3 linked regions of the Homo sapiens genome follow. The protein of the gene in region 3 purifies or fractionates together with the protein of the main gene of each other region. This does not show direct contact. Each region holds a gene or a part of one and is shown on either strand. Other genes may lie near its edges. The genes, in order: GNPDA1, MCTS1 and PCDHGA9.

Region 1 (3,653 bases), 520 kb from region 3:
CAGCCCTCTGACCCCTAGCCACTCGGCACAGGCTGAGCCAGTATCCATAAGTGTCCACCCACCCAGTACCACCATCTGTGGCCACAGGGCTTGGCCAGAGTAACTGCACACCAAGGGCCTGGGAAATCCCCACATTCTGATCTGATCTGCTTTTCATAAGGCAATGACCATAGGTTAGAGGCTGGGGACACTCTGGCCACCTGGGGTAGGGCTGAACTCATCTTAGAAAGCAAGCAAGCACACCCCTCACCCTGTGCCTCTCAACCCACCATCCACTCCCAGTTCTACCCCACTCAGCCTGAATAAATCCCAGCTTGAACACCAGGTGGTTAGAGAGAACTATCTTAGGGCTTCCCCAGATCAACTTTTTTTTTTTTGGCCAGGAAAAAAAAATAATGTTTAATGTTAAGCATTAAGAATATGTAAAATCAGCCTTAAAAAGGAAGGAAATTTTGACACACACTACAACAATGGATGAACCTTGTGGACTTTATGCTAGGTGTAAGAAGCCAGTCAAAAAGACAAATACTTTATGATTCCAGTTATATACTCTAGTTTGATTCTAGAGTAGTCAAATTCATAGAAACAGACAGTAAAATGGTGGTTTCCGTGGCTGGTGAAGTGGGAAATGAGAAGTTGTTGTTTCACGGGTATAGAGCCTGAGTCTTACAAGATGAAAAGAGTTCTGGAAATTGGTTGCACAACAATGTGAATGCACTTAACACTACTGAACTATACACAGAAAGGTGGTTAAGATGGTAAATGTCATGTTACATGTATTTTACCACAATTTTTTTTTTAAAAAAAGGATGTTTAAAATGAAGCTATTACAAAAGGACTGGGTGAGGGAGAGGTGATAGAAGACCAAGGTATAGTCTTTCAGCAGCAGGAAGGATACCAATCTCAGGTCCCCTTCAAGTGTACCTGGCAGAAAGGGGAGCTGGAGGCCACACACAGAAGAGAAAGCACAGACACAGATCCTAGGGGAAACACCCGAGCCAGGATCCCACTTGCAATCATTTGTTCCAGAAAGAAATGGAATGGAGTTGAGGAGCAGGCAGAGGAGAAGGAGATACTCTAATATTTATTAAGTATTTGTTATGTATAAGAAACTTCCACATCTTTTATCATAAAAGGATTAAATGAATTTAATGCTTACAACCTGTGAGGTCAGCTTTATTAGCCCCATTTTATAGCTGAGTAAACCAAGAGGTAAGTATTGATAATTGAGCCTATCATCAAATGTCACTGGCTCCCCGATTCCTCTCCAGGACTGGGCCAATGAGAGGAGGAGCATCACTCTCCTAGAATCAGGAAAGAACCTTGAAAGAGAAAGACTCACCCACGTACTCATCCATGTTGAAGGTCTTCACATATTTAAAGGACAGGTCCCCATTCTTATAGTATTCAATCAGCTTCTTGTAGCAGCCAAGTGGGGTACTCCCTGCAAGAGTGGCCACACCCATGAACACCCCTTGCACCCCAAGTCTGGAAGCCCAGAGGGTTCACAGGAATAAGTCAGGGCTGCTCACAGGGAGAACCTGTCAGATCTGAAGTCCTACCCAGTACTCCAATCCTAACTGCCATCCATCCATTAATTGCTTGTTTAATGCCTATTTTGCCACTAGACTGTAAGCTCCAGGAGGGCAGGACTGTGTCTGCCTTGATCACTGCTGAATCTCCCAGTATCCAGCACACTGATGACTGAAATCACTCTGATTAGTACCTGAGTGAACATCAGACTTCATTATTGACATGATACTCCCTGAACAAGTAATATGTGCAAGGCACAGGGCCATGTGATAAGGACACAGGGGAGCAAGGGACAGTAGCTACTCTAAGATAACTCACTAGGAGTAGAACACAAAGCAGGAACGTCAGTTGTGATAGGGTAAAGCACAGGCTCACCCAGTGCTTCAGGGTTCAAGGAAGACTTCCCTGAGGAGCAGCGAAGCCCTAGTTGAGTCTCATTAAAAAGTCAATGTCATGGCTAGGCATGGTGGCTCACGCCTGTAACCCCAACACTTTGGGAGGCCAAGGCGGGCAGATCACTTGAGGTCAGGAGTTCAAGACCAGCCTGGAAAACATGGTGAAACCCTGTCTCTACTAAAAATACACAAAGTAGCTGGGCATGGTGGCATGTGCCTGTAATCCCAGCTACTCGGGAGGCTGAGGCACAAGAATCACTTGAACCTGGGAGGCAGAGGTTGCAGTGGGCCGAGATTGCACCACTGCACTCCAGCCTGGCCAATAGAGCCAGACTCTATCTTGAAAAAAAAAAAAAGTCAATGTCATAAAAACACACACACAATAAAAGGTAGGAGGACACTGTATATTAAAAGACTAAAGATGCATGAACCCTGACTGGACACTGAATTAATTTTTTAAAAACCAACCTATAAAAGATAAATGTGGACAATTGAGAAAAAATTGTGAACACAGTTTGCATATTAGATGATGGCATGATTTTTCATTTTCTTAGGTATGATGGTATCATGGTTGTGTAGGAGAATGTCCTTATTCTCAGGAGATATGTGCTGAAGGATTTAGAGATAAGTGTCAGGATGTCTGGAACTTATTTTCATGTGGTTCAGAAAAAAAAAGTGTGTGTGTGTGTAGATAAAGAACAAGAGCCAGAGAAAGGTAAAAGCAAATGTGGCAAAATGGTAACAATTGGTGAATTTAGGTGAATGGTATTGACCTGTTTTTTTCCTCTTTTTTGAATATTTGAAATTTTGCAAACTAAAAAAATGAAAGAAAAAAAACCCATCGAGATTACGTCATGTCACCCCTCTTTTCAAAACCCACCAATAGCTTCTCATTTCACCCTCAGCAACACCAGTTATTCTAAGGCTCCACAGAACCTGGCCCCTGGCTATGAGACCCTCCCTGCCACCATATCCAACACTGCACAGCCCCACCCCTGCCGACACACTCCCTATCCTTTCCTGCTTCATGTTTCTCCTTTCCTCTTATCACCATCTAACATACTCTATATTTTGCTAATTATTATGTCTCTCCCATTATAATTTAAGCCTCAGAAGGCAGAAGTTCATATCCTTTTTGTTCATTGCTGTATCCTTAGAGGCTAGAACAGCTTTGCATACAGAGGGTACTCAATAAATACCTGCTGAGTGAATGGCAGCTCCCCGCAGCCCACCCAAAATAATTAGTTGGTCCGTGTGACAAGGCCTTAGCTATGCCTGAGCCACATAGCTTCCTCTCTCCTGCCATTTTCCAAACTTCTAGCCTTCCCATGAATTCTCTGAACTTCCCAGTATCTAGCCAATAAACTCCTTTTCTGCTTAATTTAGCTGGAGTTGGTTTCTGTGGTTTCCACTCAGAACCCTGACAGGTGCTACATCTAACAGAAGCAATGTTCCAAGGAACCCGTGTGGAAACGCTGTCCTGTTGGTTCAAGCAGGACAGGCAGGGAGAGGCCAGGTTTTGGAGGGCCTTGAATGCCACTCTGAAGAGCTTGGATCTGACTCTGCAATGATGGGAACGAGGGAATGGTTTCAGAAGGCCAGACTCTGACCCATACAGAGGTTGGGTCTCTCCACAGTTAGGAGACAGGATGTTAGCACAGCCTCCGAGGGCCTGAGACATTGGTAGTTTCACAGGCACAGGTGGATACTACTCCCACAAACCTC
Region 2 (3,653 bases), on a different chromosome or scaffold from region 3:
CAAATGTTATTGCTCTTCATTTCATTCTCCAATTTTAAAATGCTTTACTTTCAGCCAATATGTGAATATAGGAGACTTCAAAAGCATAATCAATTACTCCCTTAAAGTTCATTGTAAGTGTTCTCAGAACTCTACCACCTAGAATTTAAAGACGGGAAGATTTACTTTATAATTTTAATTTCTTATCACAAGACTCGATTGTCAATAACTGTTAACGTCCATTTAATAATCTATGGTGAAATAGGTAATTTCTTCTTATTTTCACAAGCGTGTGAGTAAAAGACTGGGTTTTAAGCAATAAATCATTTGTTCTAACTAAGCACATGCTTGGAAAAAGTGCTATTTTTCCAAACGTATGCCTTGAAAACAAATACAATTCAATTGCCTTTTTGGTTCATGGGAAGCCATACTGCGGTGGCTTCCAAGGTTGGCCAACCTGTTTTTATTCTTACCACCTCTTTCAAAAAGGGATGTTGTCTTTGTCCCCAAATTCTGGTGTTGTCCTATGCTGATGCATAATGAAGCCCTGAGGCTTGGAAACTTGCAAACCAATAAGATGATTTAATGATGAAACGGCATGTCAGTTTGACACTGTCTATTAATAGTCCTTGAGTGAGCTTAAATTTGAGACACTTTTAAAAGCGGCATGTAGTTCCAGTTTTGCTTCCCTTATCAGTGGAGCTTGAGATGTCTGTTCCTGCCGACTGATGTTTTAACAAATTTTTAGTTTCTCATGATGTGAAAGATTTTGTATGCACGTCTTAGTCTGGATACTGTTTTCATTAGTTCTAATGCTGCTGCATGCAAATTTTGTTTAAAACCAAAATTGACTCTTCACATCTGGACTAGATTGGACATGGTGAGGAGGCTGGAAGGAAAGTCCTTTTTGCTCTGTAGGCTCTGGACAGCTTTCTTAGAGTTGACTTATCCAGGATTAAGAAAAAGTTTTCTTTTGCGTGACTAAATTCTTTCCACAGTTTGCTTGTGTAAGCATTTTAGATTTAAGCAAGTTCAACTTGAAATATATTTGAATATGAAGTAGAAACAGCTTCATTTAATGGGATAATAGCAATCTCTAACCCATCAAATTAATATCTACTAAATAGCTTCCAAAAAGCACTGACTGGAAAATATTTTTCACTATCATGGCTTTATTCAGTTTCAAAAACAGTAGGGGCTAAAATGTTTGGACATTTATCCTGCATTTATTTTGTGTTTCACAAGGTTAAAATTTTGTATTTTGTAAAGTGTCTGAAAAGGAGTCCACAAAGTATTTCTGCTTTCTTGCTCCTGAATGCAAAGGTCTGAGAGAAGGCACATCCTCATTAGCTTCTGGGTGTTGTCAAACCCAATCCTCTCTCAAGTACCAAATGCCCAGATACATTTATTGGGATGCAGGAATCTCACTTAAGTAGCGGTTTTTGCTGATATAAAGACAAACATCTTGATTAAAGTGTAGGGAGATAGAAACTATACCAATTTGGGCAATTTTGGCTCTAATGTCTAATTTGTTGTGAAAGGGGAAGATGTTCTAAGCTAATGTTCTTAAAAGTAACTTATGAATTTCTTAAAAATAGTTTTTAAAAAGCTGTTTCAGGAAAAGCTGTTTTATTGCATGGCACAGATTAAATGTACAGATGTTATCTTAAAACAATGAAAGAGTTCCCCTAATTTGAATATTCAATACCAGCTGTTATTCACATCAATATTTTAACATTTTACCATCAAGATATTTAATACAAAGGATTGATACATATTTAACTGTTTAGAATTCTAGTTAAACTTGTCCAGATGAGTAAGAGGGAAGGAGAAATAACATTCTCCAAGTACCTACCATGTGCACAAGCTCTACTTATATATCTTGCTTAATCTTAGCAATGATTCCATGAGGTAGATTTTAACTCTCATTTTACAAACGAGGAGACTAAGGCTCAGAGAGGTCATACAACTTCAGGAAAGTTGTATGACCTCTCTGAGGTAATAAATGGCAGAACTGGAATTTGAACCTAAGTCTCCTTGTCTGCAAATCCTGTGTTTTGCAGAAAACTCTCCTCTTGTATTTCATAAAATGTTAAATCTTGGCCCAAATTCAAATCACCATCTTTATGGGTTATTGGAGAGAGGTATAAGTTGGCAAGACTCTGTTCCACGATGGGAAAAAATGGGTAGGATTTGAATGAGTAAGAGTGGGATACTTGCACAGTATCATATTTGTGTGGCTGGAGTAATGTTTTTCTGTTTCCCTCTTAGCAAAGTGGAGTGGGAGAATCTTGAAATTGAACTCAGTCCTGAGGTCTGATTTTCCTATTATTAGTCACTTTCAAGCCAGGTGATTTGTGACCATTTAAATGTTATGCTATTTCAAAGTCTTCTACATCTTTAGAAAAGGACATGAGGGAGGGTTAGTTAAGTGGGGCAATGAGAATGTAGAGTGTAATGTGCAAAAGCAGGACTAGCAGTTGCTTTGAAGATATCTGGGGAAGGCCGGGCACGGTGGTTCACGCCTGTAATCCCAGTACTTTGGGAGGCCAAGGTGGGCGGATCACGAGGTCAGGAGATCGAGACCATCCTGGCTAACGTGAAACCCCGTCTATACTAAAAATACAAAAAATTAACCGGACGCAGTGGTGGGCGCCTGTAGTCCCAGCTACTCGGGAGGCTGAGGCAGGAGAGTGGCATGAACCCGGGAGGCGGAGCTTGCAGTGAGCTGAGATCGCACCACTGCATTCCAGCCTGGACAACAGAGCGAAACTCCGTCTCAAAAACCAACCAAACAAAAAACAAAAATTAGCTGGGCATGGTGGCGCGTGCCTGTAATCCCAGCACTTTGGGAGCCAAGGTGGGTGGATCATGAGGTCAGAAGATTGAGACCACCCTGGCCAACATGGTGAAATCCTGTCTCTACTAAAAATACAAAAAAAAAAAAAAAAAAAAAAATTAGCCGGGCGTGGTGGCGCGTGCCTGTAATCCCAGCTACACAGGAGGCTGAGGCAGGAGATTTGCTTGAACCTGGGAGGCGGAGGTTGCAGTGAGCCGAGATTGTGCCACTGCACTCCAGCCTGGGCGACAGAGCAAGACTCCGTCTAAAAAAAAAAAAAAGATATTAAAATTAATGACAGGAAGAGTTTGGGTTCAGTTATAATTTAAGGGAAAAAACATTGAGGGGCCTAATCTACATTTTGCTCCGGATCCAATGATTTAATTTTTGGGAAGAAAAATCCAGTGATTAAAGTCATGCAAGGAGATGGCCTGGGGCTTGCTAAAAGTCAGGTTGCAGTTTCCATTGCATTCAAGAAAATCAGAAAAATAAATACAACTTTTAGAAGAAACTAAGTTTTCTCCCATTCATGTTTAGCTATTGGGGGGTCTCATACTTCTGGACTTGCTTAGACCTATGCTATCTAATATGGTAGCCTCTGCCCATCCATATGTGGCCACTGAGAACTTGAAATGTGACTAGTTTGAATTAAGATGTGCTGTAACTAAAATACACCCTGGATTTCAAAGACTTAATAAATAATGTAAATTATCTATTCTTTCCTGTTGATTATATATTGAAATGATAATATTTTGGATATGTTTGGGTTAAATAAAATATATTACTAAAAGTAATTTCACCTGTGTCTTTACTTTTTAAATGTGACTATTAGAAA
Region 3 (3,328 bases):
AACGGCCAACTAGACTATTCTTTTGGAGACCACACATCTGAGGCAGTGCGGAACCTCTTTGGCCTAGACCCTAGCAGTGGGGCAATCCATGTGTTGGGTCCCATAGACTTTGAGGAGTCACGTTTCTATGAAATTCATGCAAGAGCCCGTGACCAGGGACAGCCTGCCATGGAGGGCCACTGTGTGATTCAAGTGGATGTGGGGGATGTCAATGACAATGCCCCAGAGGTGCTATTGGCCTCTTTGGCCAACCCTGTCCTAGAGAGCACACCAGTGGGCACAGTAGTGGGGTTGTTTAATGTGCGAGACCGGGACTCAGGTAGAAATGGTGAAGTGAGCCTTGATATCTCTCCGGACCTGCCATTTCAGATTAAGCCTTCTGAGAACCACTACTCGCTGCTAACCAGCCAGCCTTTGGACCGGGAGGCCACATCCCACTATATCATCGAGCTGCTGGCCAGCGATGCTGGTTCACCTTCCCTACACAAACATCTCACCATCAGGCTCAACATTTCAGATGTCAATGACAATGCACCCCGCTTCAACCAGCAGCTTTACACTGCTTACATCCTAGAAAACCGGCCTCCGGGCTCCCTTCTTTGCACTGTGGCTGCCTCAGATCCAGACACTGGGGATAATGCCCGCCTCACCTACTCCATTGTAGGAAATCAGGTTCAGGGAGCCCCAGCCTCCTCCTTTGTGTATGTCAACCCAGAGGATGGACGGATCTTTGCCCAGCGTACCTTTGACTATGAATTGCTGCAGATGCTGCAGATTGTGGTGGGGGTTCGAGACTCCGGCTCTCCCCCATTGCATGCCAACACATCTCTGCATGTGTTTGTCCTAGACGAGAATGATAATGCCCCAGCTGTGCTGCACCCACGGCCAGACTGGGAACACTCAGCCCCCCAGCGTCTCCCTCGCTCTGCTCCTCCTGGCTCCTTGGTCACCAAGGTGACAGCCGTGGATGCTGATGCAGGCCACAATGCGTGGCTCTCCTACTCACTGTTGCCACAGTCCACAGCCCCAGGACTGTTCCTCGTGTCTACACACACTGGTGAGGTGCGCACAGCCCGGGCCTTACTGGAGGATGACTCTGACACCCAGCAGGTGGTGGTCCTGGTGAGGGACAATGGTGACCCTTCACTCTCCTCCACAGCCACAGTGCTGCTGGTTCTGGAGGATGAGGACCCTGAGGAAATGCCCAAATCCAGTGACTTCCTCATACACCCTCCTGAGCGTTCAGACCTTACCCTTTACCTCATTGTGGCTCTAGCGACCGTCAGTCTCTTATCCCTAGTCACCTTCACCTTTCTGTCAGCGAAGTGCCTTCAGGGAAACGCAGACGGGGACGGGGGTGGAGGGCAGTGCTGCAGGCGCCAGGACTCACCCTCCCCGGACTTCTATAAGCAGTCCAGCCCCAACCTGCAGGTGAGCTCGGACGGCACGCTCAAGTACATGGAGGTGACGCTGCGGCCCACAGACTCGCAGAGCCACTGCTACAGGACGTGCTTTTCACCGGCCTCGGACGGCAGTGACTTCACTTTTCTAAGACCCCTCAGCGTTCAGCAGCCCACAGCTCTGGCGCTGGAGCCTGACGCCATCCGGTCCCGCTCTAATACGCTGCGGGAGCGGAGCCAGGTGAGGGGCTCGGCGCCGCCCCGGGCGACCCCTGGGGGCGGCACTGGAGAAGCCGCCCGTCCTCATAAGGGATTGAACTTGCATCCACTCCTCTCCGGCCGGCTTGGTCGCTGGCTGCGCTCCACCCGATTCTCGGGATCATTGGACCGTTTGCGCGAAACCAGAGTGGCCGATTAAGGGATGGGGCTCCGAGCACCGGGGGTGGTGGCGACTGTGGGCGAGGGGAGGTGGGACCGACCCCCACCCCTACACTCAAAAAAGGCCGGGGCCTCCTTCGAGCTTCCGGTGAATTTCGGGCGATTTCCGCGGGTGTCGGGGGTCCCGGGAGGAGGCAGTCACAGATCCACCCCTGCAGCCAGCCTCCTAGGCGCCGGCTCCGGCACGCTTCGCCGGTCTGTAGATTTCCTCTTCGATTTCTCCCCAGCTCCCAGCATCTGTGACTTCACTGTTACCCTCCCTATCCCCGCATCACCCAACCGCACCTGTCTGCGGGACTTAGGTGTGCGCGCGGGGCTCATGCGTGTCCTCCCTGCTGGCCACCCCCACGGCCCACACAAGTTGCACGGGCTCGCCACGCCCCGCCAACACGTGCGCGGACGCACGCACGCACTCCTCGCACGTGGGCTTACGCGAATACCAGCTTTCACTGCCACTCGCTCGCGGCCAGATTCACAGGCCTGTTCCGGTCCACTCGCAGCTCCCCTCTGCCGCTCCCTCCGCCGGGCTCAGGAGTACTCGTAGCTGATTGTGCGCGCCTGAGGGTCCCAGATCGCGGCCGCCCAGGACCAGGCGAGGACTCCGGAGCCTCCTCTCACCTCTCCCACCTGCGCCCCGGGCTGGGCCGGGTCGCCTGGGGGGCGGCCTGAGCGAGGCGCGGGGCCAGGAGCGCTGGAGCGACTGCCGCTCTAAGTGCCGGGCGGGCAGGACTCTACGATCCTTGGGCCAGAGGTCCGGATGGTCCCGGGACTCCGTCTCAAGGGTCGGCGACCCCTCAACCCAGAAGCCTCGAGCAGGCGGACAGGCAGAGCTGCCCAGTGGCCGAGGCGCGGCAGGGCTCCGCGTTGGGCGAGTGAGTGAGCCTCTATAGGACAGCAGGACTGGGACTCCAGTGGCACCAGCGGCCCCTTCCTCCCGCAGGAAGTGAAAGCCTCGAGCGCCCTGGCTCTCAACCCCCAGAGATACAGGCTTTTGGCGCCGTCGTGATCACAATGTGCCCAGCGATCTAGGGTCAGAGATTTGGAGGTGACCAAACTATCTGACACTCTAACAAGTCCTGTCTCCTCTGGCAGATGGAAAGCTATAGGCTCTGCCAGATGCCAGGGTGCCCTTATGTGTGAGGAAACTACAATAGTAAAAAACACAAGTTTCTCCAACTCCAGGAGCTTTTATTCAAAATATATCAATGCCTAACTCTGCTCCTAGGACTGTATTTTGAAACACCCCCAGGTGATTTTGATAGCTGATTGAGAGAAACTTACTATATAACTCCTTTGAGAACCTCATCTCATTTGCTCTTCCCACCATTGCTGTTGGCTAGGTACTAACATGCCTCTCTTATAACAGCTTCACAGAGGTCAAGTGACTTGCTCAAGTTCACAGAGCAAGTAAGAGAGATTCTAACCCCTGTCTAACTCCAGAATGTGTGCTTTTAATTTCTTGGCACTTGGAACTTTAAAAGCTTGAGGAC

Evidence for each region.
Region 1: the proteins of PCDHGA9 (region 3) and GNPDA1 purify together in Homo sapiens (co-immunoprecipitation; one large-scale study listed by IntAct). This does not show direct contact.
Region 2: the proteins of PCDHGA9 (region 3) and MCTS1 purify together in Homo sapiens (co-immunoprecipitation; one large-scale study listed by IntAct). This does not show direct contact.

Annotation. Positions count from the first base shown.
Region 1 is NC_000005.10:142,006,457-142,010,109, forward strand, and holds part of GNPDA1 (glucosamine-6-phosphate deaminase 1), read right to left. Parts: intron 1,445-3,653; coding exon 1,343-1,444; intron 1-1,342. UniProt on the Homo sapiens protein: Catalyzes the reversible conversion of alpha-D-glucosamine 6-phosphate (GlcN-6P) into beta-D-fructose 6-phosphate (Fru-6P) and ammonium ion, a regulatory reaction step in de novo uridine diphosphate-N-acetyl-alpha-D-glucosamine (UDP-GlcNAc) biosynthesis via hexosamine pathway.
Region 2 is NC_000023.11:120,617,548-120,621,200, forward strand, and holds the end of MCTS1 (malignant T-cell-amplified sequence 1), read left to right. Parts: 3' UTR 1-3,612; downstream 3,613-3,653. UniProt on the Homo sapiens protein: Translation regulator forming a complex with DENR to promote translation reinitiation.
Region 3 is NC_000005.10:141,490,060-141,493,387, forward strand, and holds part of PCDHGA9 (protocadherin gamma-A9 isoform 1 precursor), read left to right. Parts: coding exon of another isoform or gene 1-1,818; intron 1,819-3,328. Other genes in the region: PCDHGC5 (protocadherin gamma-C5 isoform 1 precursor), read left to right, coding at 1-1,641. UniProt on the Homo sapiens protein: Potential calcium-dependent cell-adhesion protein. May be involved in the establishment and maintenance of specific neuronal connections in the brain.